4 linked regions of the Homo sapiens genome follow. The protein of the gene in region 2 interacts with the protein of the main gene of each other region in a biochemical or structural test. Each region holds a gene or a part of one and is shown on either strand. Other genes may lie near its edges. The genes, in order: BAZ1B, KAT8, H2AC8 and BAZ2A.

Region 1 (8,473 bases), on a different chromosome or scaffold from region 2:
CCTGCCTGTGGGAATACCTTAGGAAGTAATGTACCATACAAAGCTACAGTACAATCAACATAATCACCAATATTTAACACCTAGTCATTAAATGTGTGCATTACTCACAACTTCCACTAAGTTTAATGAAGATTCACAATATACTCCAAGAACATACCAACATACAGCTTTAAGTCAGTAAAATATCACACAAAGTTCTGTGATACATGCAATCAAAAGGTAGGTATTAAAAGAAAATTAAAATATCAAGTCCCATTAAAAACATAATTGTAAATATAAGTTGAGAACTGGGAATACTACTTCAAAGGCAGCTGTTACCTAACCACATATTTGTTCTCCTCTATGAAACCACTAATAGCCTAATAAAGAAATATGCCAATCTGCCAACCATACAGTACAATTGTTTAAAAACCATCCTCAAAGTGCTTCCACTTGCAGAAATTCCCGAAAGAGCAATTTCCCCCCAATATATAATATGTTTTAAGACTTCTTTTGTTAAAACAGTTTTAAATGCTGTTATGGGAAATTAAAAAATGAAGAATGTTTATTAAATACATACCACTTAAAATGTTTCCGGTTTCAGTTTTAAATTGTTACCATCAAAACTCTTCATATATATATTTCAATTTCATTCATTCAATAATATGAAAAAGCCTGCGTTGCCAGTCCTAAATTAACTTCCTACAGCCATTTTTTACATAGCTCAGTACCTGAAATATACTTAGAAATTGTCTCTTCTCTATGGCATGTTTCTTATACTCTGCTAGAACCAGACCTGAGAAAGTATCATCTGAAAGTGTGTGAGCATCCATCAACGGCTCAAAACATTAATGACATTGGAAAAGTATATGTCGGATTCTCACAAGTTGCTACTCCACTGCCGATTCGAATGTATTAAAAAGTAGGGTACTGGCCAGGCGCGGTGGCTCACGCCTGTTAATCCCAGTACTTTGGGAGGCCGAGATGGGCGGATCACCTGAGGTCAGGAGTTTGAGACCAGCCTGGCCAACATGGTAAAACCCCATCTCTACTAAAAACACAAAAAGTTAGCCGGGCGTGGTGGCACGCGCCTGTAATCCTAGCTACTCAGGAGGCTGAGGCAGGAGAATCACTTGAACCCTGGAGGCGGAGATGGCAGTGAGCCCAGATCGTGCCACTGCACTGCCACCTGGGTTAACAAGAGGGAAACTCCGTCTCAAAAAAAAAAAAAAAAAAAAGTGGGGTACTTCGGTATAATGCAGTATTTGGTAGAGCTAGTGGAACTTCTCCAGAACATTCCAAGTCTTCACAGGACAAGAAAAAAACCAGATCACCACCCCTCCACTTTAAAGTGCCTTACCTTATACCATAATGACAAAAAAGTGAGGTAATATTTAAATTAATTGAAAGTGAAGGAGTAACATTCCACCTTCTTCTGTTGATTGACTTACAGGGATGAGGTAGGAAGAGCGGTGGATTCTACTCCTCTTTCATCATTTGACCTTCAACAAGTCAACCTCCACTCTCTGGGCCAACTCAGCAAACCAAGCCCGAGGACCCGACCACCTCCAAGATCCACTTCAGCTCCAAGATGCTACAGCTCTATTTCTCCAAGAGCCTTCCTCCAGCATGGACTGATTTTCCAGGCCCCTTTGTGTGTATACTCCCCACAAAGGGACACTCACAAATTGCACTCCAACAAGAATGAGATTATCCTCTAAAGTACTGCGTTAAAGTGAGGATCAGGGAGAAATGAAATAACTCTGAGAGACACTTCCTCCTATACAGAAGCAAGCAAGAAACTGAGAAATGAAGTCCTTCCGAACAGAAGGGGCTGAGAAAACTCATAACACATTAGCCTTCACTCTTAAAGCTTTCAGTCACCAAAGAAATGCTTGATTCCGAAATCGTTTTTGTTTTTTTTACAGATAAGCCTCAAAAACGATTCTTCTGGCACCCATTAAAAAAAAGCAAATAAAAGCTGCACAACTTTTCACTAAAAGATAATGCTTATGCAAGAAATCTTAGTCATGACGAGAGGATGCTTCCTTTGTAAAACATCCAATTTCATGTTCCTAAAATACAACATAAAAACTTCACGTCTTGGTTTTTTTGTTTGTTTAATTTTAACAAATACCAATCTCCTTCTAAACCTTCAAAATTTCAAACCTGTGTCTGCCCAGGGAAGGCAGGCATCAGCTCCTCCACAGGCAGTTTCCTTCCCTCCCTTTCCTCTAAGCGGGGAATCTCATTCCTAGTTTTCTGCCCCAGGGTCCTGTCAGTTCATCCCCGGCCTAAAGTCCCCTCGGGAGACGAAAAAAACGCCAAGTATCCCCGCAGAGATCGGGGTAAGACGCAGTTGAGTCTTGCACACGCCGCATCACGAGGCCGCGCGAGTACAATTTCAAAACTTAAGCTGCAGGTTTCATTTAAATTTTTAAAAAATTTTTGTAAAAATTAAAGGAGAAAACCTAGCTCCCCCTCCCCACGCCTCCTCCTCCCTCTCGGGTCCTCAAGGCCTAAAGCCAACCCGGGGAAGGTAATGGGGATGGGGGATGCGCTCCTCGCCGGCGAGGCCCCGGGACAAAGTGCGGGGCCCCGGGGGCGGCCGAAGCGGGCCCTTCTCCTTCCAGGGCCGGTGCGCGCCCCCCGCCGGATCCCCTGGAAGGATCGGCGGGCGCAGGCTGAGACTCAGCCTCCAGGCCCGCGAGCGGCCGGGGCGCGCTGACAGCTGCCCCGGGCCGGGGATGCGCGGCTGACCTGGTCTCGCGAGCCCCAGGCCCTACCCCGGCCCAGCCCGGCCCAGCCCGGCCCGCGCGGCTGGAAAAGGATACTCCCGGGTGCGGAAGGCCTCCTGAGTGTGCGGGATGGTGAAGAGCGGCTCCTCTCCGGGCAACGGCTTCACCAGCGGGAAGGGCTTGCGGCCCAGGAGCGGCGCCATCGCGGCGGCGGCGGTGGGGACTGGCGGCTGCTGGGGCCGGCCCCGCGGCGCAGCACTAGGCCCCGCGGCCCGGAGCGAGCGCCAGGCGCCCGGGGGTGGGGTGGGGGAAGGGAGGGGTGAGAGGGCGGCGCGAACTCCGGCTCCCTCACCGCCGGCGCGGCCGCGCGACAGTCATGGAGCGGAACGCCACGGCGCAGAGCTCCCGCGCACACCGCCGCGCCTCCCAGCAGCCCCCCGCCGACCTCCGCTTCGGGTCCCGGCGGCCGGCAGTCACGACTCCTCCTCAGCAGCACCGGAGGAAATTATTGAAAAATGGCGGGAGATTCCCCTCCTCCCCCGGGCCCGGCCAACGCACACACTAACTTGCTCCCCCGTGGCGCCGGTGGCGAATGCTCCAATAGGCGGAGAGCTGGTCAGCGCTCACAGCCTATTGGCTCGGAGGAGCTGCCGCTCCGCGCCTGGGTCCCGCCCCCCTGCCCCTGTCGCGTAGTTGGGTTGCAGCGCACTAGAGGGCAGTCTGAAGAGGTGAAAGGTCACGTTATGTAAGCGCCCGTGATAGGCGTGCGGGCCTCCGACGGCAGAGTTAAAAGTGGGGGACAGCGGGGGATGGAGAGGACGAGAACTCAAAGAGGTCAAGCCGGAGAAGCCCCTCGCATATACAGATACTGCGCCATCTGTCACCGACGGCGACACCGACATCCGGGCACCACTGTCCGTGTGGTGCGCCGGAGGGGGAGGGTGAGCGCGCGGCCAGGGGCTTTGTCTTTCCTCTTGGGCGCCTCCCCCTTCTTAAAGGCGCCGTGCTCGGCCACGCCCGGGGATGCGCGGGTGGGGCTGGGCTGCAGGGAGGGGTTGGCGGGAAGTGGCCCCGGGAGCTTACCCTACCAAAGGTTCTGCGGAAGGACAACGTGGGGGCCAGCTTTGCTCACCCCAGAGTTAACTTCTGGGCGGGAGTGTGGTTGAGATCTGGGTAGAAGTATACTGCTTGTTTCTAGGGGCTGGCTGGAAAGTAGAATATAGAAGCTTCTTTGGAGAAATAGATTAAAAGACGTACTTAGTTTTTTGGTTTTTGGTTTTTGTTTTTTTTGAGACGGAGTCTCGCTCTGTCGCCCAGGCTGGAGGGCAATGGCGCGATATCGGCTCACCGCAACCTCCGCCTCCCGGGTTCAAGAGATTCTCCTGCCTCAGCCTCCCAAGTAGCTGGAATTACTGGCGTGCACCACCACGCCCGGCCAATTTTGTATTATTAGTAGAGACGGGGCTTCTCCATGTTGGTCAGGCTGGTCTCAAACTCCCGACTTCAGGTGATCCGACCGCCTAGGCCTCCCAAAATTATCATTATTTTTTTTTTTGAGACGGAGTTTCACTCTTGTTGCCCAGGCTGGAGTGCAGTGGTGCAGTCTCGGCTCACTGCAACCTCTCCCTCCCGGGTTCAAGCTATTCTCTTGCCTCGGCCTCCCGAGTAGCTGGGACTACAGGTGCGCGCCACCACACCCGGCTATTTTTTGTATTTTGTAGAGACGGGGTTTCACCATGTTGGTCAGGCTGGTCTCGGACTCCTGATCTCAGGTGATCCACCCGCCTCGGCCTCCCAAAGTGTTGGGATTACAGGCGTGAGCCACCACGCCCTGCCAGAGCTGTGACTCTGGCTTTTTTTTTTTTTCTCCCATGATACTCAGCACCTGGCTCGGAACATTGTAGGTGCTAGTGAATACTATTTGAATGAATTGGATCTACCTTTTATTTTTTATTTTTTTTGTAGAGACAGGGTCTTACTTTGTTGCCCAGACTGGTCTCGAACTCTTGGCCTCAAGCAATTGTCCCGCCTCTGCCTCCCAAAGTGCTGAGATTAGGCGTGACCCACTGTGCCCAGCCAGGATGTCTCTTTAATAGGTACGTCTGGGCCGGGCGCAGTGGCTCACCCCTGTAATCCCAGCACTTTGGGAGGCCGAGGCGGGCGGATCACGGGGTCAGGAGATGGAGACCATCCTGGCTAACACGGTGAAACCCCGTCTCTACTAAAAATACAAAAAATTAGCCAGGCGTGGTGGCGGGTGCCTGTAGTCCCAGCTACTGGGAAGCTGAGGCAGAATGGCGTGAACCCGGGAGGTGGAGCTTGGAGTGAGCGGAGATCGTGCCACTGCACTCCAGCCTGGGCGACAGAGCGAGACTCCGTCTCAGGGAGGCGGGGGGGGGGGGGAAATAGGTACGTTTGGTCGGGCACGATGGCTCACGCCTGTAATCCCAGCATTTTGGGAGGCTGAGGCGGGCGCCTCACCTGAGCTCGGGAGTTCGAAACCAGCCTGAGCACCATGGAGAAACCCTGTCTCTACTAAAAATACAAAATTAGCCGGGCGTGGTGGCGCATGCCTGTAATCCCAGCTATTCGAGAGGCTGAGGCAGGAGAATCGCTTGAATCCGAGAGGGGGTGGTTGCGGTGAGCCGAGTTTGTGCTATTGCGCTCCAGCCTGGGCAACAAGAGCAAAACTCCGTCTCAAAAATTATAATAATAATCACAGTTCTATACAAAGTGCAGAATAAGAAAATAGCATCAACTATTTTAATGCTATTAAATGGGGAGCATTTCAGTTGCTTCTCCAAGCAGACAACACCCACATCCAGAATTTGTTTGGCTTTCCAGTACAATCAAAAACACACTCATTAAGTTATCTCCCTATTAAACTGTCTCCCTTAGTTTAAAGAACTTCACTTTAAAGTTTCCCAGCCTGTACCTTCCCAGCTGTACCTTCCCAGCCTGTCCTTCAACGGGGCTAGACTGCGAGGTGTCTCTAAATGCAGTCTCCTAATGTCAGACCTCTATCTCCTTTTCTTCTCACCTCAAGGATCTCCTATCCCCACTAGGAGGTCTAGGTCAAAAGCTACCTCTGTGAAGTTTCCTCTGATCACCTAGCAGAAAAGATCTCGGTTCCTTTTCCTTGAGGCAGTAGACTTTTCTCCCAAGAACAGCAGGAGAAGCCTTGCCAGAGCACATAGCGTTTGAGTTAATTGAGAAAAGAAAAGAGTTCTCTAGACAGAGAAGGAGGGACGAACATTATAGACAGAACAGCAGAGTGAAGCCTGGAAGTTCAAGATCGTGTGCCCAAAATGTGAGGATTTGAGGCAGAATATATCAGATGAGAATGGTAAAGGAAGTGACCATCCTGATATATTCTGTAATGGCTGAATCGGAGTGACTACTTAGAAGGGAATTACAGGGCTAGGCATGGTGGCTCACACCTGTAATCTCAGCACTTTGGGAGGCTGAGGAGAGAGGATACTTTGCGGCCAAGAGTTTGAGACAAGTCTAGGCAACATGGCAAAACCCCGTCTCTGCTAAAAATACAAAAATCAGCCGGGCGTGGTGGCGCATACCTGTAATCCCAGCTACTTGGGAGGCTGAGGCAGGAGAATTGCTTGAACCCGGGAGGCAGAGGTTGCAGTGAGCTGAGATGGTGCCCAGTCTGGGCGATAAAGCGAAATTCCATCTCAAAAAAAAAAAAAAAAAAGCAAAAGAAAACAATTTGATATTTCAGAACAGCATCTCACTTTGCACATGTGAACTGGGCACCATAATCATTTCAGCGCTTGGGTCCGCTGTGGGCTAGAATCCATTGCTGGGATTGGTGAAGATGGGATCTGAGATGGGAAAATCGGTAATGGGCTTGGTTTCAGCCATGTGAACTCCAGGTACCCTGAAGAGCCATCCAGAACACAGCCGGAAATTCTGAGGGAGGAAGTGGGAGCTGGAGGTGGGGCTTGGTGGTCACAGTACAGAAACTTGAGCTTCAGGAACCATATAGAGCTTATGAAGAGACCCCAAATAAAGAACAGTGCTCATCTCGGGGAAATGGATTTATGGTTTTTGCGTTTTGTCTCATTTTGAGACAAGATCTTGCACTGTCGCCCAGGCTGGAGTGAGTGCAGTGGGGGATCACAGCTCACTGCAACCTCGACCTCCTGGACTCAAGATCCTCAGCCTCCAGAGTAGCTGGGACTACAGGCACACACCACCATGTCCTGCTAAGTATTTTCTTTTTTGTAGAGACGGTGACGGGGATGGGGTCTCACTGTGTTGCCCAGGCTGGCCTCAAGCCCCTGGCCTCAAGGTTTCCTCCCTCCTCAGCCTGTCAAAGTGCTGGGATTACAGGCATAAGCCACCGCACCAGGCCTGGAATTACAATTTTTTTTCTTTTCTTTTTTTTCACCCCTCCTTTTTCACTGGAATTACAATTGATGTGATTTTCTTCTTTATATTTTTCTATATTTTATGATTATGTTTTTATAATGACTACATTATTAGTTTGTTTTTGAGATAGGGTCTCACTCTGTTGCCCAGGCTGGAGTGCAGTTGCACAATCTCAACTCACTGCAACGTCCACCTCCCAGGCTCAAGTGATCCTCCCACCTCAGCCTCCCAAATAGCTGGGACCACAGGCACACAACACCATGCCCAGCTCTTTTTTTGTGTTTTTGGCAGAGACAGGGTCTCACCATGTTGCCCAGGATGGTCTCAAATTCCTGAGCTCAAATGATCCACCCACCTAAGCCTCCCAAACTGCCAGGATTACAAGCGTGAGCCACCACTCCTGGCTCTTTTTCTTTCTTTCTTTTTTAAAATACATTTTAAAAACTATTTTAGGCCGGGCAGGGGTGGATCATGCCTGTAATCCCAGCACTTTGGGAGGCCGAGGCGGGCAAATCACGAGGTCAGGAGTTGGAGACCAGCCCGGCCAATATGGTGAAACCCTGTCTGGCTCTACTAAAAATATAAAAATTTAGCTGGGTGTGGTGGTGTGTGCCTGTAGTCCCAGCTACTCGGGAGACTGAGGCAGGAGAATCGCTTGAACCCAGAAGGCGGAGGTTGCAATGAGCCGAGATCGCGCCACTGCACTCCTGCCTGGGTGACAGAATGAGACTCCATCTAAAAAAAAAAAAATATATATATATATATATATATATATTTTAATAAAGACACGTCTCACTATATATTGCCTGGGCTATTCTCAAACTCCTGCCTCCTGGGCTCAAATGATCCTCTCACTCTGGCCTCCCAAAGTGCTGTAATTACAGTCATGAGCCACCGCACCTGGCCCTGGTTTTATTTCTCTTAATGGCTTCGCCTTCCTGTTTAGCCCACAGGCTCAGCCTCTGACCTCTCTCTTGAGCTCCACAGCCTCAGGGGCAACTAGATAACATCCATTCTAGCAGCCTAAAATCTTGAACTGTTTCCCCTTCCTGTCTTTCCACAGCACCTGCTTCAGGCCTTTATTATTTCTGCCCAAAATTGCTATGATACTGACTTGTTGCTTAAAAAAATGTTTTCAGTTGCATTCAAATTATGTATTATCATGGTAAAATGAAAACAGTTCCAAAAAGAAACATATATCAGTGTGCAGATGGATGGATTTTTAAAAAACATAAAAACATAGTTCCAAAGAAAATCAAATACTCCTACAAAAAGCAGCCCAGCCACACTCCTCTAACCACTTCCTGCTCCCCTTGGGCATCCATTTCCAACTCCTTAAACGTTTCCTCTAGTCTTTAGCTCTATAT
Region 2 (7,841 bases):
GTTCCCTTGGGTCTCTCGGGCCCCAGTGCCAAAACCATAGCAAATCCCATTTCTTAAGCTCCTGTAGTGTGTCAGGGACTTTACCTACTTCCTCTTACTTACTTTTCATAGGTAAGAAAACAGACAGAGGGTAAGGGCTTCGCTGCAGTCTCACAGCAAGGAAATGGCACAGCTGGGACTAGAACTCAGGCCTCCGGCACTGGTAGCCTCTTTTGTCTCCTAGTAGCTGTGTCTTAGTAGAAAAAATGACTTGAAGTTCAGTGGGAAAGACGAGAATGTTATTCGGCAGTTGCTATAGCCAAGCACCCTGCCAAGTGCTGTATATGTATAAGCTCCTCAAATCCTTCCCAACAATTCAACACACAGGAATAGTTACTTTTTTGGTAGGTGAGGAAGCAGGCTGAGAGAGATTAAGTAACATGCCCAAGGTCACACAGCCAGTAAAACGGTGGGCTGGAATTAGAATAATAATGCCAAACACTTGTTAGCCGGTGAGCAGAAGTATTCAGCTAAATGGTTTTTGTGTGTGTGTGTGTGTGTGTGTGTGTGTGTTTTGTTTTTTGTTTTTTTTTTTGAGACGGAGTCTTGCTCTGTCGCCCAGGTTGGAGTACAGTGGAATGATCTCGGCTCACTGTAAACTCCGCCACCTGGGTTCAAGCAATTTTCCTGTCTCAGCCTCCCAAGTAGCTAGGACTACAGGTACCTGCCACCACGCCCGGATAATTTTTGTATTTTTAGTAGAGACGAGGTTTCGCCATATTGGTCAGGCTGGTCTCGAACTCCTGACCTCAGGTGATCTGCCCACCTCGGCCTCCCAAAGTGCTGGGATTACAGGCGTGAGCTACTGCGCCCGGCCTAAGCTAAGTGTTTTAATACATGACCTCACTGACATTTCACAGTAGGCCTGTGAAGTAAGCATGCAGAAGAGCTACAGATAAGTTTAGGGACCCAGACAGGAATTTGATCAACCAGCTAAATTGTGCTACCTCAGAGCCAGAGGCCTTAGCAATGATTTTGGTTTTTTTCTTAAGAGACGGGAGTCTTGGTGTGTTGCTCAGGCTGGACTTGAACTCCTGGGCTCAAATGTTCTTCCTGCCTTAGCCTTCTAAGTAGCTGGGACTACAGGAGTGCATCCCTGTACCTGCCTTGGTTTTTTCTTGTATTGATACTTAATAATTGTACATATTATTGTTATTTTTTTTTTTTGAGACAGCGTCTTACTCTATCGTCTAGGCTGAGTGCAGTGGCACAATCATGGCTCACTTCAGCCTCAACCTCCTGGGCTCAAGCAATCCTCCTGCCTCAGCCTCCTGAGTAGCTGGGACCATAGGCACGTGCCACCATGCCCAGCTAATTTTTTATTTTTTTGTAGAGACGGGATCTGCTATGTTGCCCACACTAGTCTCAAACTCCTGGTCTCAAGCGATCCTCCTGCCTTAGCCTCCCAAAGTGCTGGGATTACAGGTGTGAGCCACTGCGCCCGACCAAGTCTCAGTTTCTAAATTTATAAAAATCAGGAGTGCACACCAGAGCAAGATTTGTCAAAGTCTCCAGACACCCAGACATTTGTTACTTTCAGCTATTGCAGCTTCATCCTTCTGAGTACATGAGTTAGTGGGCAAGCCCAACATTTAAATTTCTTTAAATGGAAGAAAGAAAGTGGATAAGATAGAAAAATCAGGGTGTTGCACTTTATTAAGTGTAGGTATTGTTTTGAGAAGCTTTTATTTCACACCCAATAAAAGTGTGCAGGATTCCTCTTGTTCCAGCCTTACCTTCCCGATGATCCTAGCACATACTTGTGTGTATATACAGACATGTTACAGTGCCAAGTGTACTTCCTACTGTGGTGTGATTTAAAAAATTGAAATACCCTAAACTGGAAGAACTCCTCAAGGTCTAAACTGCCGAATCGAACTTCCTATTGTAATGGAAATGTTCTATAGCTGTACTATCTAGTACCGTAGCCACTAGCCACATGTAGCTGTTGAGCACTTGAAATGTGTCTAGTGTGACGAAGAATTAAGAATTTTAGCTGGGCGCGGTGGCTTACGCCTGTAATCCCAGCACTTTGGGAGGCCAAGGTGGGTGGATCACCAGGTCAGAAGATCGAGACCATCCCGGCTAACATGGTGAAACCCCATCTCTACTGAAAAATACAAAATAATTAGCCGGGCGTGGTGGCGTGCACCTGTAGTCCCAGCTACTCGGGAGGCTGAGGTAGGAGAATGGCGTGAACCCGGGAGGTGGAGCTTGTAGTGAGCCGAGATCCTGGGCTCACTCCAGCCTGGGTGACAGAGTGAGACTCCGTCTCAAAAAAAAAAAAATTTTTAAATTATGGGTGCAGTGGCTCACGCCTGTAATCCCAACACTTTGGGAGGCGGAGGTGGGTGGATCACTTAAGGTCAGGGGATTGAGACCAGCCTGGCCAACATGGCCAAAACCCCATCTCTACTAAAAATACAAAAATTAGCCGGGCGTGGTGGTGCACACCTGTAATCCCGGCTACTTAGGAGGCTGAGGCAGGAGAATCGCTTGAGCCCAGGAGATGGAGGTTGCAGTCAGCCAAGATCATGCCACTGCACTCCATCCAGCCTGGGTGTCCGATCAAGACTGTCTCAAAAAAAAATTAATTATCATTTTTTAAAAAAATTTTATTTTTATTTTTTCGAGACAGAGTCTCACTCTGTTAACCAGGCTGGAGTGCAGTGGTGCGATCTCAGCTCACTGCAACCTCCGCCTCCCAGATTCAAGTGAGTTTCCTGCCGCAGCCTCCCAAGTAGCTGGGACTACAGGCACGCACCATCATGCCTGGCTAATTTTTGTATTTTTAGTAGAGATAGGGTTTCACTATGTTTGGCCTCAAACTCCTGACCTCAACTGATCCGCCTGCCTCGGCCTCCCAAAGTGCTGGGATTACAGGTGTGAGCCACCGTGCCCAGCCAAAATTTTCATTTTTTGAGACAGAGTCTCACTCTGTCACCTAGGCGGGAGTACAGTGGCGAGCTCTTGGGTTACTGCAACCTCCGCCTTCCTGGCTTAAGCAATTTTTGTGCCTCAGCCTCCCAAGTATCTGAGATTACAGGCGTGTGCCACCACACCCAGCTATTTTTTATTTTTTATTTTTAGTAGAGATGGGGTTTCGCCATGTTGGCCAGACTGGTCTGGAACTCCTGGCCTCAAGTGGTCCTCCCACCTCGGCCTCTCAAAGTGCTGGGATTACAGGCGTGAGCCACCACGTTTAGCTGAGTATAATTTTAAATAGCCCTATGTGACAAGTGGCTACTTTATTGGACAGTGTAGATCTAAGATTAATTCCTCAACTGTTTTGCACTCAACAAAGACATACCTCTGAGTTGGCAACCAGCAGGGTGGATAACGGGCCAGTGGTGATAAAATCAAAGAATAGGTAATGAAACAATCATCCAGTTAACAATCAGCAAGGTTCTTCAGAGCCTAATTAATGTTTAATTCTAAATAAATTGCAACAATTAAGAAAAGTAGTGTTTTTGTAGTTCTTTATTGCATTTGCAGAAGAGTACTGTATTTTGTGAGAATTGGGAAATGTGTTTTAAAGAGATGTGTGAGGAGGAAAATCTTTCTTCCTCATCTTTACAGTGGTTAGGTTCAGAATTGGACAGACCAGGGGCCCATGCCCAACTCTGCTGAGTACCAGTTCTGTGACCTTGGGCAAGTGACCTCACCTCTTTGTGCCTCAGTTTTCTCTCATACAACAGGGACAATGAGCACTCTTATTTCAAAGGCTCATTGTGAGGAACAAAATGAAATAATGTCGGCTGGGTGCAGTGGCTCATGCCTGTAATCCCAGCACTCTGGGAAGCTGAGATGATTGGATCATTTGAGGTCAGGAGTTCGAGATCAGCCTGGCCAATATGGTGAAAGCCCGTCTCTACTAAAAATACAAAAAGAGGCCAGGCGCAGGCAGACCACGAGGTCAGGAGTTGGAGGCCAGCATGGCCAACATGGTGAAACCCTGTCTTTACTAAAGATACAAAAAATTAGCTGGGTGTGATGGTGCACACCTGTAATCCCAGCTACTTGGGAGGCTGGGGCAGGAGAATCGCTTGAACCCAGGAGGCGAGGTTGCAGTGACGTGAGATTTTGCCATTGCACTCCAGCCTGGGCGACAGGGCGAGGCTCCATTTCAAAAAAAAAAAAAAAAAAAAGGCTATGGCTCATGCCTGTAATCCCAGCACTTTGAGAGGCCAAGGTGGGTGGATCATCTGAAGGTCAGAAGTTCAAGACCAGCCTGGCCAACATGGTGAAACCCCATCTCTACCAAAAATACAAAAAATTAGCCGGGCTTGCTGGTGGGCGCCTGTAATCCCAGCTGCTTGGGACACTGAGGTGGGAAGATCGCTTGAACTCAGGAGGTGGAGGTTGTAGTGAGCCAAGATTGCACCATTGCTCCAGCCTGGGCAACAAGAGCAAAATTTCATCTCAAAAAACAAAATAAATTAGCTGGGAATGGTAGCAGGCACATGTAGTCTCAGCCACTTGGGAGGCTGACGTAGGAGAATCACTTAAGCCCAGAAGGCAGAGGTTGTGGTGAGCTGAGATCTCCCCACTGCACTCCAGCCTGGGCGACAGAGTGAGAGTCTATCTCAGAAGAAAAAAAAAAAAACATGTCTGTGCCGTGCTTGCCACTTGGAATAAATGGCAGCTCACTAGTCCCCGAGGGTAAGGGACCTCACCTTGCCCTGCCTGTTTACTACTCTGTAAAATTGAAATAACGCAGCTGGGTGCAGTGGCTCACGCCTGTAATCTCAGCACTTTGGGAGTGCGAGGCTGGTTGATCACCTGAGGTCAGGAGTTTGAGAACAGCCTGGCCAACATGGCGAAACTCCATTGCTACTAAACATACAAAAATTACCTGGATGTGGCGGCATGTGCCTGTAGTCCCAGCTACTTGGGAGGCTGAGGCAGGAGAATTGCTTGAACCTGGGAGGCGGAGGTTGCAGTGAGCCGAGATGGTGCCACTGTACTCCAGCCTGAGCAACAGAGTGAGACTCCGTCTCAAAAAAAAAAAAAAAAAAAAAAGAAATAACACTCTATGTAAGGGTTACTGAAAGGATTAAATGAGGCCATATAAACATATAGGCACAGTGCTTTGTGGAGGGGGTTCTGGGTAAAGCACTGGCTCCTTCCTCCCTTCTCAGCTACAGGGCAGGGCCTTGTCTGCCCTGGTGTAGGTCATGGACCGTCTTGGGTCCCCCTTCCATTGTCAGGCTGTACTGGGTTCCTCCCACAGGGTCTGGCCTAGGAGCAGGATGTGTTGTGAGTGTGGTGTGACTCTTAGTCTCTGCTTTCTAAGGACTTGAAAAATAGAGGAACCCAGGTGGGCATACTTGGACAGTGTTGCCCTGTTGACCACTTCTCGCTGAACTTGGGAAGGAGGGAATGTTTTCTGGATGGGAAGAATCCAGTCAGGCCTCCTGGAGGGGGTGGTAAGAATCTCAAGCCTTGAAGGATGGGAAAGAGCACAATAACAACAGTGACAAAGGATAGATCACAAAGCATCATGGACTCACCTGACTCATGCTCCGTGCCAGGCTGAGGAAGTGTTTTCTGCTGGCAGTGAGAGAAGGAAGGGCATTCTCCAGGTAGAAGGAGCTGTTTGTGCAGAAGCATGAAGGCCGCTAAAAGGGGGCTGCTGATAGCAATGAGGAGGCTGGGGCTGGAGGCAGGGAGTCTGAGGCGGCCTAGTAAATTGTCCAGACCTGAGATGGGGCCATGACTACCTGGAGCAGGACAGAGAGGAGAATTCCAGAGAGGGCCCAATTCCAGAGATGTCAGAAGTAGACTCGACATCCACTGTATTAGGACTTGGCCAGGCCGAGGGAGAGAGAGTAGTCTGAGGCAAGCCTAGTTATGGGTCTTGGACACTGGGACCAAGGGTGATGTTCCCAGTAAAATGAGCAACCCAGGAGGAGGCGCAGGTTTGCAGGGAGGAGTGATGAGGTCCTTTCTGCACATCTTGAGTCCGCTGTCCCTGTGGGAGGGACCTCTGGGGCAGTCGCATGGGCAGGCAGGGTCTGGTCCTCAGGAAAGGGGTCCAGGAACATCGGGGAGGTAGTAACAGTTCTTACGCTGGGCCTGGAAGGCAAATCTGTTATTTCATTTGAGTCTCACAACTTTGGCAGAGCTGGATTGCCCCCCATCGTGCAGCTGAAGCCCCATCCTGATCCTAACCCTGTTCATCTGGCAAAAGGTCCAAACTTGGACATCAGGGATGTCTGGGATATCGGGGGTGGGGCGGGTGGGTGTGAGAGGAGTCTGGACCAGCCAGCTTCAGAACCAAGTCAGATAGGTTAGCTATTGGTGTGGTTATTATTGCCATCCAGGAATGAGGTCTGGTAGACGGCAGGGAAGCCTTGTGGGTCCTGACGGGAGGGACAGCCTGGTCACCACTTCTGTTCACCTCTGCCCACTTTTCTTTCCTGGCCCAGACTTATGCAGAGATGGACCCCACCACAGCAGCCTTGGAGAAGGAGCATGAGGCGGTAAGTGGGGCTGGGAAGCTGCCTGCAGGTCCCCCGTCTCCCCTTGCCGAGGAGCCCCTGCTGAGCCGTGCACTGTGCCTCACTCCCACCCTGCCTGCAGATCACCAAGGTGAAGTATGTGGACAAGATCCACATCGGGAACTACGAAATTGATGCCTGGTATTTCTCACCATTCCCCGAAGACTATGGGAAACAGCCCAAGCTCTGGCTCTGCGAGTACTGCCTCAAGTACATGAAATATGAGAAGAGCTACCGCTTCCACTTGGTGAGGCTGGGCCGGCCGGGCCGAGCTGGGCAGGGGCCCGGTGAGAGGCAGAGGCAGGCATGGAGACTGAGGGCGGCTGCGCCGGCAGCTCCAGGGAGGAGACAGGCCCAAAGGAGCGAGTACAGGGAAGAGCTGCTGGGGGTCAGGAGGCCTGGATTCCAGGCCTGGCTTTGCTGTTGCTGGCAGGGTGACCTTGCCAACTTCAGACCTCAGCTCCTCTTCTCTGGAATGGGGACAGTAACTCACCCCCTTCAGGTCTTTTGCCAAGGCCAGCTCCATCCCAGGAAGCACACATAGCCCCTGGCAGTGGGACCTTAAGTGTGGATGAAATTGGGGGCTGTCAGGAAGGGGCGCTCTCATCACTGACACAGTGGGCTGCTTCCCGAAGTGTGGAATCTGAAGCGAATAGGTGTGGTTTAGGGAAGCCATTGTCATGGACGGGTCCCTCCAGAGCCAGGCCCACAGAGACTCAAAACCCCACCGTGCTGTGTGATGTTTGGATCTCTGTGCCTGGGCCTTGGTCTGTAAAAGCAGGATCACTTTCCTAAGGCTGCTGGGAGGATTACTCGATGTAGGTGAAGTGTTGAGGGGGGAAACAGAGAGGCAGAGACTTGCTCCAAAGCATGCAGTGGTGGGTTGGGTGCCTCCTAGCAGAGAACATATGGGCAGCGAACCTGTTCTCTTGTCCCCGACCAGGGTCAGTGCCAGTGGCGGCAGCCCCCCGGGAAAGAGATCTACCGCAAGAGCAACATCTCCGTGTACGAAGTTGATGGCAAAGACCATAAGGTGAGTGGGTGGCCAGGGGTTGGGAGAGGCCGGGGAGGCCCTGGGCACCTCCCAGATGATCCTCATCACCACCAAAGGGGAGGGGGCAGCCTTAGCTGAGCCTCTATGGGCAGAATGCCTCTGAGGGGCCGGGCACTGCAGCTCACACCTGTAATCCTAGCACTTTTGGAGGCTGAGGTGGGCAGATTGCCTGAGCTCAGGAGTTTGAGAGCAGCCTGGGTAACATGACGAAACTCCTCGACTAAAAATACAAAAAATTAGCTGGC
Region 3 (5,909 bases), on a different chromosome or scaffold from region 2:
GACTACAGGCGCCCGCTACAACGCCCGGCTAATTTTTTGTATTTTTAGTAGAGACGGGGTTTCACCGTGTTAGCCAGGATGGTCTCGATCTCCTGACCTCGTGATCCGCCCGCCTCGGCCTCCCAAAGTGCTGGGATTACAGGCGTGAGCCACCGCGCCCGGCCGAGTTTCCTATTTCTTAACCACACCATTGATAGTTTGGGATAGAGACAAATAGAGAAAGTTATCTTTAGAGGAGCTGTCTGTTGCACCAAAAAAAAAAATGTAACAGCACTGTTAACATCTTGGCATTGACCCTTATAGTCACTCTTTTTTCCTAAAACTATATGTGTGTGTGTGTGTGTGTGTGTGTGTGTGTGTGTGACATCATGTAAATAAGAATACACTACTTGGCAACTTGGATTTACCCCATACAATGCCATGAGCATATTTTATGTCGTTTTTTTTAAAGCATTCTTTTTAACAGCTGCATAATATTCCATTAGGGATAAAACCTAGTTTTAGGCAAAGTCCAACTCTTCAACATTAGTATTTCCAGTTGTTAGCCACAGTAAACAAAAATATGGACAATATTAACAAAATTAGAAGTTAAAATCAATGAGTTTGTATATTTTTAAATATTTGCAGAAAAGAAAAGGGAGTAGTCTGGAATGGGGACTAGATTTCAAACTTGGATGAGTAAGTGAAGCCAGGTAGAGTATCATAAGGTCTGTCTTGGTTGTGCTGAGTTTCAGATGCCTGTGAAATACTTATTTCATGTACTATTTAGAAGCCTAATCACCATAATTTTTGATATTGACTGAATTGCCTGACTGAAATCCAAGTCAGCCCACAATTCAAACATTGAAGTCCAATACCAACTACTTGAAAATGTGACTATTTGGAGATAAGGTCTTTAAAGGTGTAAAATGAGGTTTTAAGGGTAGGTCCTAATCTATTCTGACTGCTGTCCTTATAAGATGATATTAAAACACAACCCACACACACACAGGGAAGACCAGAGAGGGGAAAACCCAAGGAGAGTGGCCCCAGAAAAAATCAATCATGCTCACTGGTTTGATCTTGAACTTGTAGCCTTCAGAATTGTGACAAAATTAATTTTTTTAAGCCACACAGTCTTTGGTAGTTTGTTTTGGCAGCCCTAGCGAACACACTTCTCAAACATTTTCATTCTGGGAATACTTTTCTCCACACCTTTTCTATGTTATGCTAGCTTTTGTACTCCACAAAGACAAACACACAGAACACAGATGCACACCCACCCCTACTGTATGTTGTAGGGGAGGAAAGAGCGTTTCCTTTTACCCATCTTATGTTCATTGGCTGGGGCCCTGAAACAAAATACAGATTAACAACAGAAAAATATACACTTTATTTTTATTTTGATTTATTTATTTATTTTTGAGACGGAGTCTTGCTCTGTCGCCCATGCTGGAGTGCAGTTGCCCGATCTTGGCTCACGGCAAGCTCCACCTCCCGGCTTCATGGCATTCTCCTGCCGCAGTCTCCCGAGTAGCTGGGACTACAGGTGCCCGCCACCACACCCGGCTAATTTTTTTCAATTTTCAGTAGAGACGGGGTTTCACCGTGTTAGCCAGGATGGTCTCGATCTCCTGACCTCGTGATCCGCCCGCCTCGGCCTCCCAAAGTGCTGGGATTACAGGCGTGAGCCGGCGTGAGCCACCGCGCCCGGCCAAGAGAAAAACATTCACATTTAATATGAAGTTTTACATGACATAAGGAAATAAGGACCTGAAGAAGGGCTTAAACCTGAGTGTGTTTGCACTAGGTTTGATGAAGAGAGTCATGCAGAAATATAACAAGACAAAAATAATATGAGCTAAGGATAATAAACAAGGAGAAATCTAGCAAGGTTTATTTGTTCAGATTCCTCGCATACTCTGCAAGACTCCCAGGAGGGTCTTAAGACCTGCTTCAGAGGAAGGTCATACGAACATTCTTGTCTATGTTGTTCTACTAATGTCTTAGAATATTTACTATGTCAAGGCGCCATACTTTGGAGTACTATGTTGTCAGAAACCTGAGGTTGCTCATGGAGTACTATGGAGTAGTGACCTTTTTTTTTTTTTTGGTCCCATTTTAGAAATTTGATTAATGAGTATAAACTAATGGTTTCTATGTTTGAGACGGAGTTTCGTTCTTGTTGTCCAGGCTGGAATGAAATGGCGGGATCTTGGCTCACTGCAACCCCCGCCTCCCGGTTTCAAGCGTTTCTCCTGCCTCAGTCTCCGAAGTAGCTGGGGTAACATAGGCATGCGCCACCACGCCCGGCTAATTTTGTTATTTTTAGTAGATACGGGGTTTCACCATGTGGGTCAGGCTGTTTTTGAACTCCTGACCTCAAGTGATCCACCAGCCTCGCCTCCCAAAATGCTGGGATTACAGGCGAGAGCCACTGCGCCCAGCCAGCCAAAACTGTAATTTTTTTTTTTTTTTTTTTTTTTTTTTTTTTATGAGATGGAATCTAGCTCTTTCGCCCAGGATGGAGTGCAGTGGCGCGATCTCTGATCACTGCAACCTCCGCCTCCCGGGTTCAAGTGACTCTCCAGCCTCAGCTTCCAGAGTAGCTGAAACTACAGGTGAGTGCCACCACGCCCGGCTAATTTTGTTTGTATTTTTTTAGTAGAGACAGGGTTTCACAGTGTTAGCCAGGATGGTCTCGACCTCCTGACCTCGTGATCCGCCCGTCTCGGCCTCCCAAAGTGATGGGATTAGAGGCGTGAGCCACCGCGCACGGCGGAAAACGAGATTTTTTAGATCAACTTTACATTGCCAATGCCCATGGTATTCCCTCCACAACAAACTCCACAAGAGTGCTCAGAAAAGTCAAACTTGTTATCAGGTGATCTTTAGGGACCCAAAGACTACTCTTCCTACCCTTTCCAGTGTTGCCCAGGCTGGAATTGCACTAGCGTATTCACATGTTCCTGCAGTCTCTAGCCCGAGAGTTTAAGCTATCCTACCACCTCAGCCTACCGAGTAAATGATAGTACAGACGCAAGCCGTCACACCTGGTTAGCTTCATTTTTTTGCAGAGACGAGTTCTATGTTGCCCAGGCAAATCTGTTAACTCCTGAGCTGAAGAAAGCCTCATGCATCGACCTCCCAAAGTGCTAGGATTACAGGATCTTGCCAACACAGAACAGGAGTATCTCCTGATCAATTTTTTTTGAGACGAAGCCTCGCCTTTGTCGCCCAGGCTAGAATGCAAAAGCGCCATGTCTTTTCACTGCAACCTTTGCTTGCTGGGTTTAAGTGATTCTCCTGCGGCAGCCTCCCGAGTCTCTGGGATGACACGCGACTGCCCCACGCCCGGCTAATATTTGTATTTTTAGTAGAAACGAGATTTAACCACGTTAGCCAAACTGGTCTCGATCCGCACGCCTCGGCCTCCCAAAGTGCTGGGATTACAAAATCGGAAAAATTATTCCCTAGAAAACGGTGAAATTCAATATTAAAGCTCTTTATGTGAGACTTGAGTGGCTCTGAAAAGAGCCTTTGAGTTTTAAAGCACCTAAGCACACATTTACTTGGAGCTTGTATACTTGGTGACAGCCTTGGTACCTTCGGACACTGCGTGCTTGGCCAGCTCTCCGGGAAGCAGCAGACGCACGGCGGTCTGGATCTCCCTGGAGGTAATGGTCGAGCGCTTGTTGTAGTGGGCCAGACGGGAAGCCTCGCCTGCGATGCGTTCGAAGATGTCGTTAACGAAGGAATTCATGATGCCCATGGCCTTGGATGAGATGCCAGTATCGGGGTGAACCTGTTTTAGCACCTTGTACACATACACGGAGTAGCTCTCCTTACGACTGCGCTTGCGCTTCTTGCCATCCTTCTTCTGCGCCTTGGTCACAGCCTTCTTGGAACCCTTCTTCGGAGCAGGAGCTGACTTAGCTGGTTCAGGCATGCTGTCAGAAAACAATAACAGCAGTGAGAATGAACGCACTTAAATAAAAGCTCGTGTCTAGAGTCTCTCCTTTTATAGGCCTTTCATGCAAATAAAGAATTCAAAATATCCAGCTCTGATTGGGCAATGTGTTAGTGACGCATACATGTAAAATAGCCTTCACCTTATTTCCTTTCTAATTGGTTGGCTCGTCAAAGAACAATTTTAACCAATCAAATTGCGCCTTTCACAATTCTACCGATGACTATAACTAGCTTCTTATTCCTCCATCGAGCCCATTCTTTTTCTTTATTCAGTGGATTGTTAGTTCTTCTGCTGTTAGGAAGCCACTATGTCTGGACGTGGAAAGCAAGGCGGCAAAGCTCGGGCAAAAGCTAAAACGCGTTCTTCCAGGGCCGGTCTTCAGTTTCCAGTTGGCCGTGTGCACCGCCTCCTCCGCAAAGGCAACTACTCCGAACGAGTCGGGGCCGGCGCTCCAGTGTACCTGGCAGCGGTGCTGGAATATCTGACGGCCGAGATCTTAGAGCTAGCTGGCAACGCGGCTCGCGACAATAAGAAGACCCGCATCATCCCGCGCCACCTGCAGCTAGCCATCCGCAACGACGAGGAGCTAAATAAGCTTCTAGGTCGCGTGACCATCGCGCAGGGCGGTGTCCTGCCCAACATCCAGGCCGTATTGCTGCCTAAGAAGACGGAGAGCCACCATAAGGCCAAGGGCAAGTGAAATGATTACTAGTCAAATCCGTCAGTGATCCCGAGTCCCAGAAACCAAAGGCTCTTTTCAGAGCCACCCACCTTTTCTGTAAAGTGCTGGAATACACATACGATGCCTGAAATCTCAATGTTCACTGTCCTAATTTTTAACGAACGCTTCTGACGTTACTGGTCAGTTCTTTATTGAAATCCTTGCTCACATTTCATGCACTAATTTATCTTACTGGTGTTTCTTTGCAGTAAAAATGCGTTTATAAAGGTATACAAGAATAGAAACCGAGGTTGTGACACCAAGGTTTCACTGCGTTATTTTGTGTATAGGTCCATGCTGTGTATACAAATTTATCATTAATACACAGGCTGTTTATTCATGTGCACTTGTCAGAAAAGGGTGAAATATTAATACAGAAACGAGAGAACAAAGAAGGATAGCTGCCCATTAGCATTTCAGGGCGGGCTTTTTAAGTTTTAAAGATGACTGCATTCCGGCTGGGCTCAGTGGCTCATGCCTGTAATCCCAACACTTTGGGAGGCCAAGGAGGGCGGATCATAGGGTCAGGAGTTCGAAATCAGCCTGCCCAACATAATGAAAGCCCGTCTCTACTAAACAAATACAAAAAGTAGCCGGGCGTGGTGGTGTGCATCTGTAGTCCCAGCAACTTGGGAGGCTGAGGCAGGAGAATCGCTTGACTCCGGGAGGCAGAGGCTGCAGTGAGCCGAGATCACGCTATTGCACTCCAGCCTGGGTAACAGAGCAAGACTACGTCTCAAAAAAAAAAAAAAAAAAAAAGACTACATTCCTCTAGTGAGAATTGTGTTTGTTGGATTTCTCTTTTCAAAAGGAGCAATTAACACAGTATTCTAAAATAAACACTAAACGAAACTAAGCAGTAACGGCCTGACGCCCTAGGTCAGACCTGTAATCCCAGCAATTTGAAAGACTAAGGCAGAAGAATCGCTTGAGCCCAGGAGATCAAGACCAGCCTGGGCAATAAAGCGAGACAGCCCCCTCACCTCCACAAAAAGTAAAAAGCCTGCCCTGCCCGGTGGCTCATGCCTATAATCCCAGCACTTTGGGAGGCCGAGATGGGCGGATCACTTGAGGTCAGGAGTTCGAGGCCAGCCTGGCCAACGTGGCAAAACCCTGTTTCTACTAAACATACAAAAAAATTAGCCAGGCATGGCGGTGGGCTCCTGAAATCCCAGCTACTCGGGAGGCTGAGGCAGGAGAATCGCTTGAACCCGGGAGGCGGGGGTTGCAGTGAGC
Region 4 (8,628 bases), on a different chromosome or scaffold from region 2:
TCCCCGGCCTCTTTTGTGAAGCGGTCTTTGCTGGTGCCCTGGGAGCGCGGGCAGAGCTCTCCCAAGTCCTTCCTTTCGGACCTACCACCATCCCCCACTTCACCGCAGAAGTTTCTGTCTCTTTCTGGGATCCGTTCTCTTCCTCCCATCTGGGATCCTTCCTGGTTCTGGCCCCTAGGAGACGCCACCCGCTATCCTCTCCCCCAGTGGATCCTTCGCGACTGCTCTCCTGAGCGGTTGTCCTCACCTCGGTAGTTCCTGCCCCTTTAAGCACCACCTCCTCCCCTCCGCCGCCGCCGGCCCAGGGCTGGGGGAGGAGGCGCAGCCGCCGCCCGGCTCGGCCACCTGCGCCTCTGCCGCCGCCGCCGCCGCCTGCGGCCCGGCCCTGCTCCAGGTGAGGCCCGGCACCCACCTCCAGCTCCGGAGTCCCTTGGCGGGCCGTTCCTGCGGTATCCTGCCCCGGGATCCCTGCTGCCCCGGGATTCGGGATCTGACTCTCCCCCTGAGGGAGCTGCCCTTCCTCTCTCCCCTGAACTATCTACTCGCCCATTTTCCCCCTGTCCTCCGCGACCGGAATCCGGAGGCTTCTCACGCCTCTCCGCCATCGTCTCCCGAGTACCTTTCCTATTCTGGGCCCAGGATCTCCCCCTCCCCCGCGCCTTCTTCGCCAGAAAAATCTCCCGCGGTCTGGGTTTCGCCTCCTCCCCTCTGAACTAGCGCTTTCCCACGCCTTCCTAACCCCAATGGGAGGGGGGATACCCACCCCAACTCCTCTCCTTCCCCGTAGTAAGGGGGGCGGGGGAGCAACATCGACAGCACTATCTGTCCCTGCTCCGCTCAGCCCTTTAAGTTCAGCTAAGTCCCATCTAAACCTTTTCTGTAGTCCTCACCCCACCCTACATCTCCGGGAGCTTGGGGTCCAACCTCAGCACCGCCTACTGAGCCCAGGTGGGAAGGACTCTCCTCCTGGGCCTAGGGTTGGTCGGTGCAGCCTAGGAAGGCCCCTCCCCCAGAACCTGGGAGCTGGGGGCCAGGGCGCTGCCGGAATCTTGTGCTTCAGGGCCTCAGGGACAGTTGGGAGAGAGTGCGTGGGGAGCTGGGGCTAAATCTCTAAGGGAGTTGGGGCGATGGGGAAGGCAAGAGAAGTCCAGTCTTCTCTGTTCAGATGCAAAGGAAGCCCCCCGACTCCCTAGGAAATAGGGGCTTTCTCTAACTTCCAGGACCACCATAGAGAATCCCATTGGGAAGTTTGGAAACAAGTCTGTGTGAATCTGAGGAGCCACCTGTCGACTTAAAGGGGAGAAGGGGGCCGGGTGGAGTGTGCTCGCCTGTAATCCCAGTACTTTGGGAGGCCAAGGTGGGCAGATCACTTGAGGTCAGGAGTTCGAAACCAGCTTGGGCAACATGGCAAAACCTTGTCTCTACAAAATATACAAAAATTAGCCAGTCGTGGTGGCGTGTGCCTGTAATCCCAGCTACTATCGCTTGAACCTGGCAGGCTGGAACCTGGCAGGCGTAGGTTGCAGCGAGCTGAGATCACAACACTGCATTCTGGCCTGGGTGACAGAGCAAGACTGTCTCAAAACAAAACAAAACAAACAAACAAACAAAAGTGGGGGAAGAAGGGGAGGGGTGTTTTCCTTGTGATGTGTTATGGGAGAATCTAGCCTTCCCAGATTGTAGAGGGGGTGAAGACTTTTGCTTTAACCTGGTGGGGGGGTCTAGTTGGAATGGTTACCCGGCTAAGAGCCATCTCCCTGCTAGACAGATCCTGTTAACAGTATGATCCATTCAGCCAGTGAGGGGAAGGCAGGTCTTTAATAATTATCCCACCTCCATTAGAGAATTCCCCCTCCACCCCCAGTCCAGCTGCGCCCCTAGCTATGCTCTTTCATTTCCCACTCCTCACTTCCAGAATTAGGGGACTGGCTGCCAAGATCTGCTTCAGACTCTTCTAAGTCATGTTTGGAGGGGGTGCTGGGGGGAGGAGAGGGTGTTCAGCAGTGGTGTTTGGGGTTGGATGCCAGGAGTATCTGGTGGGGGAGAGGGAAGGATGTAGAGGGATGCAAACGAATCCCCTTCTCTCTCTTCCTCCTCCCAGCCCTAGCCATCTGGCTACAGAGTGGAGCCAGGCACTGTGGCAGCTGACCCCAGAGTCAGGGAGGTGCTGCAGGAACACAGGGAGGGTGAGAAAGGGGGTGCAGGTGCTAATTTGTCCCTCCCCATTCTCTTCATGACTAGTCCACTGGCCTGGCTTGAGGGAGGTTCAGCCTATTCCCTGGAGACTCTCCTTACAAGTTGCTGATAAAATGACCATTTGCCCCTTCCCCTTTCTAGTAGCTTCCTGAAGGGAAATGGGTGGGGAAAAGAGAGGTGGGTGGGTGATCAGCCACATCTGATGGGATTGAGGAGTGTTTCGGGACATTTGGGGTCAGTCTGCCCTCTCTCGTCTGGATGGGGGGAGAAGCACAGCTGCAGCATGGGGTGACTTCTAGCAAGAAGTAAACATCCAGCTGTTGGGCACACTGTCACCCCAACCTCATCCTTCCTCAGAGCAAGGAAGATCCTGATTAGATGAGATGAGGTGGGGTCTCATTCAGGAATGAGGATGATTGTAGTCTTTCTGCACCAGATGGGAAGAATGGATCCTACCTCATTTTCTTTTCTAATCCCAAGTGGTCCTCTCCTATCCAACACCCCTCTTCCTAACCGCTCCTGGCTGGAATAGTCCTAAAGGTTGCCCTGGAGACTAGGCCTGGGGCTCGGAAGGGGTGGGGGCGGTCAGTGGGGCACAGGAGTAACCGGCTCTTCCGGAGCAGAGTGGAGCCAGTGGTGGGTGTGTGTGGGTGTGGGGAGGGGCGTGGCTACACCCGTCTGACGGGCGCAGGCTCCTCCCCTGCCTGCCCAGTCCCCGACTGGCCCCCTTTAAGATTGGGAGCAGGAGGTAGGAAGATTCTCCCTCATCTGCTCTGGAAAAGGGCAGGGAAGACAAAAGGATACCAGCTTCCTTACCCACACCCCCATCCCGCCGCCCTTGAGGCCTCAGTTTTATGCCTTTCTTCACCTGCCTTAATTTTTTATTTGGGGATAGAGAGGCATTTCTTAGCAGAAGTTTGCCAGAGCCCTCCTTTCTCCAGAAGGAAGGAAACCTCTACCCTGAGTGTGACCTCTACTTACTCAGGGACTTGAGGTCAGCAGGCTGTTGGAGGAGTATTTTTTTTTCCCCAAGGTGACCTGTAAATCTGTTGTTTTGACAGGGAGGAGAGAAGGGTTTTGGTTTCCACCTGCCTATTCCCTCCACTGGTAATCTACTTATCTCGAGAGAGGAAGAGAAACCCCCTTAGCCTTCTGTGTCTGTGGCCCACACACTCTGTGAGCCTTTGCTAAAGCTAGCTTCCTTCTTATCCTCTCTGAGCCATTTGTAGTGGGGGGGTGGAGGGGTGGAGTCTTTCCCCAAAATTCAGGAAGAGCCCACCCCTCTGTGGAGTAAGGAAATCCAATGTAGACTGATGGATCTCACCCCCCAACTCTGCCCATTTTTCAGATCTCTTTCCTCCTCAGACCCCCAGAGGAAAACGTATTTGTTGACACCCCAACTTGCCAGAGTTTCATCATCCCCACTCTGTTGCTTTTCCAGAATATTCAGCAGCCTGAGCTTTGCACAGTTTAGGCAACTGTTTCTAGAACTGCATTGCATTGAATTAAATGGGAATTATCTTCAAGGCTGCAAAGTGTTGAGTTGCAAGGAAAGGAAACCTGGTTTCCTTTCTTGTCATATTTTATCCACTGTTTGACATTGAAGAAGTCATTGAACCTCTTTGGGTCTTAATTTCTTCATTTGATGAAGGAGAGAAGGTTGAACTAGAATTTTTTTTTTTTTTTTTTTTTGAGATAGAGTCTCCCTCTGTCACCCAGGCTGGAGTGCAATGGCGCGATCTCAGTTCACTGCAACCTCCACCTCCCAGGTTCAAGCGATTCTCTTGCCTCGGCCTCCTGAGTAGCTGAGATTACAGGGGCACGCCACCACACCCAGCTAATTTTTGTATTTTTAGTAGAGACCGGGTTTCATCATGTTGGTCAGGCTGGTCTTGAACTCCTGACATCATGATCCACCTGCCTCGGCCTCCCAAAGTGCTGGGATTACAGCCGTGAGCCACCGCGTCCGGCCTGAACTAGAAATTCTCTAAGCTCTAACATCATATGACACTGTTCTTCATCCTGGTGCCCTGCAGTGGACATTTTAGGTGACAGCCAAACTCTAGTCCTCTGCTAGATTTTACTTTTCTGAGTTTTCACACAGTTATGTAGCCCTGTCAGAAAAAAATTCCCAGAACCATAGAATGGGTGGACATTTGTGGCATCTTTTTGCTGATTAGTTTTCAGCTTATCCTTTACTTCTCTGACTGCATTTAGGCTACACTCAGGTCTTTGCTGTCTGGTTCCAGAGCCGAACCTTCTTTCCCCCACGCACAGGAATCTTTCCTTTCCGGTGACCAGGGCCCTGCAGATGTCGCCAGGAAAGTGGTGATCCAGGCAGGACCAGGCTGCACTGAAGGGACAGAGGTGAGTGGGTGGCTGACTCTTGCCTCTCCCCATCCCTTTACTGAATCGCGACCTGAGTGACTAACCTTTCTATTTCCACGTTTCCATTACCCTACCTGGGAAATAACTGCCCCCGAAATTCCCCTGACTCTTACCCCTACCAGCCTGTTAGAGAAGTGGCACCTGCCTTTGGGCCTAGACGTTTGGTCTAGTCTTTTAAGTTAACCTTGGGACTGTGGCATGCCTTTCAGTTTGCCCTGTGTGAAGCAGGACCACTGCCTCCATGAGATGCGGGTGCAGAGGGAGCTGCCAGGTGGGCAAGGTGGCCAGAGTTGCAGGAGGCACAGCGGCGCTAGGACCCAGGTCCGGGTCGGAAAGATGGGCTGGCGGGCTTTAGGACCCTGTGGCGGAGGCCGCGTGGGGAGACTCTCTCCCGGCCGAGGCTTCTCCGCCCCCTCCGGCTCCGACTCACTCCTCCCCCGCCGGCCATGTTGGCTCCTCTCGGGCCCCGCGGTTGAGCCGCGTCCCCCTCCCCCTTCCCGAACCCCGGACCCCAGACCCCCTCCCCAGCGGGCGTCTCCACCCGTTCTGGCGCCCGGAGCGCGGCCATGTGAACCGCTTGTACCCCGGGGAGAGACGAGCCCCGAGCCCGGCTGGACGCCGCTGCCTCAGGTTTGTGGGGTCTGTGGCCAGGGGCCTGAGGGGGAGGGAGCCCCGCTTTCATCCGAGGCTTCCCTCGGGGAACAGAAGCTCCAGAGCCGGCTTGAGCCTTGCCGGGGCGGGAAGCCGACGGGAGCTTATTTCCTGCGAGGATCCAACCCGAGGCGAGGGTCTCCTTGCTCTGGGGTCTGGGAGGAGAACAGGGCTGGTGGGGCTGCTGAGGACCCCGGACGGGGCCGCGGGGGCAGGAGGAGCTGTAGGGGCTCCCGGCGACAGTGAGGAGGCGGAGAAGCCGCCTGGCTGGTGGAGATGACTCCTGTGGGGGACTTGGGGTGGAATCCCCGGGAGGGGCTCCACCTCCTCGGGTGGGGGTGGGGATTGCCTGAGCGCGAGGGGTGGGTGAGGGGGTTCCCTTGGCGGGTTAAAACGCTCCGTTTGCGGGGAGCTGGGCGTTTTGACTGTGGTGAGTGGAGGGCGGAAGGGGTTTCCAGGGGTCTGAGGGTGTCTCCCTCGGGGAGCGCACCCATTCTCTTGAGCGTGAAGATCAGGAGAGGGCCTTCCTTGCTGAGGGTGGTGCTGCGCTTGGCTTGGGGCCCTCGCGTCCCGGGAGAATCGCGCACTCCGGGGATGGAGGTTGATAGGGCTTCCGCTGAGGCTTTCCAATTTGAGCTGGGCTGAGGGGCAGAAGGGAAGAATAAAGAGGAATTCCTTTTTCCAAGGAGATTCCTCACTGAGGGGATCCCCGCTTCCGTGGCAGAAAGATGATACCGCATCATCCCTTTCTTTCCCGGTGTTCCCAGTTTTCAGGAGAAGGCAATGTCAATAGCAGTTGTCCTTTGTAGGGTTAATTGGAGTGAGAGATTTGTCTGCTTTGGGGGACGACGGAGGGGATAGCTTTCCACCTCTATCTGTACACAAACAGCCCCTCCCCCAGCCTCCCGCAGGAAGTGGCCGGGAAATGGCAGCTGTGCGTTTGCTGCTGCGTGTCTTGTTGTTTTGAAATGTCCATTTTAATCAGATTTGGTTTCATTTTCTGAAGCCTTCTGGGCAAGCTTGGATCTTGCCAACCATGTGGCCCGAGAGACCTTTCGTTGGACTTTTTTTTTTTTTGTAAACTTGTCAACTGGAAGTAGTCAACTTCAGTTGACTCACGTATCCCAATCCCTTCTCCAGAACATCTCTGTCTTCCTGTCTGGTTTCGTTTTGTTTTCCCTTTAGCTAGAGGTCATAGAGAAGCAAACTCAGTTATCTACCAGCGGGGTACGCTCTATGTAAGTGATGCAAATTCCCTCAGCATAGAGAGCTGTCAGGGAGACTAGAGAGCTTTTGTGGCACGAGTAGCTTCTTGGGGTCCTACTTTAGTATAGTTATTATGACAGTTTCTATATTGCAGAGCACCTGAGCAAGTGAGCTTGTGAAGAAGGGTAGATTCTAAGAAATGGACGAAGAGGAAGGGGTGAGGAAGATTTAACTATTAGATGGATTTGTGTGTCGGGGGTAGGGACTGATTAACAGACTGAGATTGGTGAACTCAGTCCTTGGTGGTGATTCTAGCCTAAGGGCAGCCCCTGTGGGAAGCTTGTTATTTGACTAAGGGGTGCTGGAGATACTACCTTCTGCAGAATCAACTAATTAGAATAGTACAGTTTGTTATCATATGACTTACTCTTTAATCCATAAAAGAACGTCTCCCCTCTTATTCTTCTTGGAGATTGGTAAGCTTTTCCTCTGTTCCCTGCAAAGTCGTGCCCAGATTTTTTTTTTCTTTCTTTTCACTTGATAATCCCAGGATATTTCTCCTGTAACATATAGTGATGGACTGTGTGCTATGTCCCCAGGCATTTTGTGGCACACTGGATTTGGTTAGGGGCAACAGTTGGCCACAGAATTTTATTTTTCTTTCTTTTCTTTTTCTTTTCTTTTTTTTTCTTTCTGTCTTTTTTTTTTTTTTTTTTTTTTGAGACGGAGTTTTGCTTTTGTCGCCCAGGCTGGAGTGGTGTGATCTTGTCTCACTGCAACCTCTGCCTCCCGGGTTCAAGCGAGTTGCCTGTCTCAGCCTCCCGAGTAGCTGGGATTACAGGAGCCCGCCACCGCATCCAGCTAATTATTTTATTTTTAGTAGAGACGGCGTTTCATCATGTTGGCCAGGCTGGTCTCGAATTCCTGACCTCAGGTGATCTACCCACCTCGGCCTCCCAAAGTGCAGGGATTACAGGTGTGAGCCACCATGCCTGGTCTTCTCTTCTTTTCTTTTTTTTCTCTTCTCTCTCTCTTTTCTTTTCTCTTTCTTTCTTTCTTTTTTTTTTTTTTTGAGACAGGGTCTCACTCCGATGCCCAGGCTGGAGTGCAGTGGCGCCATCATAGCTCACTGCAGCCCCGACCTCTTTGGCTCAAGTGATCCTCCCACCTCAGCCCCCTGAGTAGCTGGGACCACAGACACGCACCACCACATCCAGCTAATTTTTTGTAATTTTTGTAGAGGTGGGGTTTTGCCAGTTTGCACAGGCTGGTCTTGAACTCCTGGGCTCAAGTGACCTGCCTGCCTTAGCCTCCCAAAGTACTGAGATTACAGGCATGAGCCACCATGCCCGGCCTATGACCCCAGGACCACAGGATTTTAGATTTTGAAAGATAAAGTTTTGTTTTTTTCTTTTTCTTTTTTTTTTTTTTTGAGATGGAGTCTCGCTCTGTTGCCCAGGCTGGAGTACGGTGGCACCATCTGGACTCACTGCAACCCTCGCCTCCCAGGTTCAAGCGATCCTCCTGCCTCAGCCCTCCAGTAGCTGGAATTACAGGCATGCGCCACCATGCCTGGCTAATTTTTGTATTTTTAGTAGAGAAGGGGTTTCACCATGTTGGTCAGGCTGGTCTCGAACTCGAATTGAGCCTCCCAAAGTGCTGGGGTTACAGGCATAAGCCACAGGGCCAAGCCTTGAAAGATAACATTTTCAGATTATTTGGACTATTCTGAAAACTACGTAAGCCTGTCATTTAAATCATCTTTTCACTATTTATTTTCCAGGCAAAAACCCCTCCCACCTAGATGAAGATCCCTAGATTAAAGATCCAGTATGGGAGCAGATAGACACTTATGATTGTGTGAAAGTGGCATCATCACTAGTAAGATAGCAGCATCATTGCTCTTCTCACTGGGGCTGTTGGGGTTTTTGATATTCTGGAAACAGTAAAAACAAGTCCATCTGATGTCAGCATCCTTTTTCTTGCCCCTGATTAGTTCCTTTAAGTTGCTGTCTGATGGGGTTGATTTGATGCTGATTTTAAGTTCCCCTTTCTTCAGCCTTTGCTTACCTGAATTGGCACTTGACAGAACAGCAAGTTGATTTTCCCTGTTGGGGGTTAAAAGAGTAAAGAAAGGAGAGATAACTACTCTTGAGTCTTTGGACTTTTAAAAGAAAAGCTGATTTT

What was found.
Region 1: the proteins of KAT8 (region 2) and BAZ1B form a complex in vitro, tested with the Homo sapiens proteins (one study listed by BioGRID).
Region 3: of the proteins of KAT8 (region 2) and H2AC8, one has a biochemical effect on the other in vitro, tested with the Homo sapiens proteins (one study listed by BioGRID).
Region 4: of the proteins of KAT8 (region 2) and BAZ2A, one has a biochemical effect on the other in vitro, tested with the Homo sapiens proteins (one study listed by BioGRID).

What each region holds. Positions count from the first base shown.
Region 1 is NC_000007.14:73,519,014-73,527,486, forward strand, and holds the start of BAZ1B (tyrosine-protein kinase BAZ1B), read right to left. Parts: upstream 3,281-8,473; 5' UTR 2,921-3,280; coding exon 2,814-2,920; intron 1-2,813. UniProt on the Homo sapiens protein: Atypical tyrosine-protein kinase that plays a central role in chromatin remodeling and acts as a transcription regulator. Involved in DNA damage response by phosphorylating 'Tyr-142' of histone H2AX (H2AXY142ph).
Region 2 is NC_000016.10:31,120,565-31,128,405, forward strand, and holds part of KAT8 (histone acetyltransferase KAT8), read left to right. Parts: intron 1-6,470; coding exon 6,471-6,524; intron 6,525-6,624; coding exon 6,625-6,789; intron 6,790-7,485; coding exon 7,486-7,575; intron 7,576-7,841.
Region 3 is NC_000006.12:26,212,716-26,218,624, forward strand, and holds H2AC8 (histone H2A type 1-B/E), read left to right. Parts: upstream 1-4,205; 5' UTR 4,206-4,259; coding exon 4,260-4,652; 3' UTR 4,653-4,722; downstream 4,723-5,909. Other genes in the region: H2BC8 (histone H2B type 1-C/E/F/G/I), read right to left, coding at 3,548-3,928. UniProt on the Homo sapiens protein: Core component of nucleosome. Nucleosomes wrap and compact DNA into chromatin, limiting DNA accessibility to the cellular machineries which require DNA as a template.
Region 4 is NC_000012.12:56,626,711-56,635,338, reverse strand, and holds the start of BAZ2A (bromodomain adjacent to zinc finger domain protein 2A), read left to right. Parts: upstream 1-5,012; 5' UTR 5,013-5,214; intron 5,215-5,567; exon of another isoform or gene 5,568-5,665; intron 5,666-6,595; exon of another isoform or gene 6,596-6,658; intron 6,659-8,224; exon of another isoform or gene 8,225-8,322; intron 8,323-8,628. UniProt on the Homo sapiens protein: Regulatory subunit of the ATP-dependent NoRC-1 and NoRC-5 ISWI chromatin remodeling complexes, which form ordered nucleosome arrays on chromatin and facilitate access to DNA during DNA-templated processes such as DNA replication, transcription, and repair.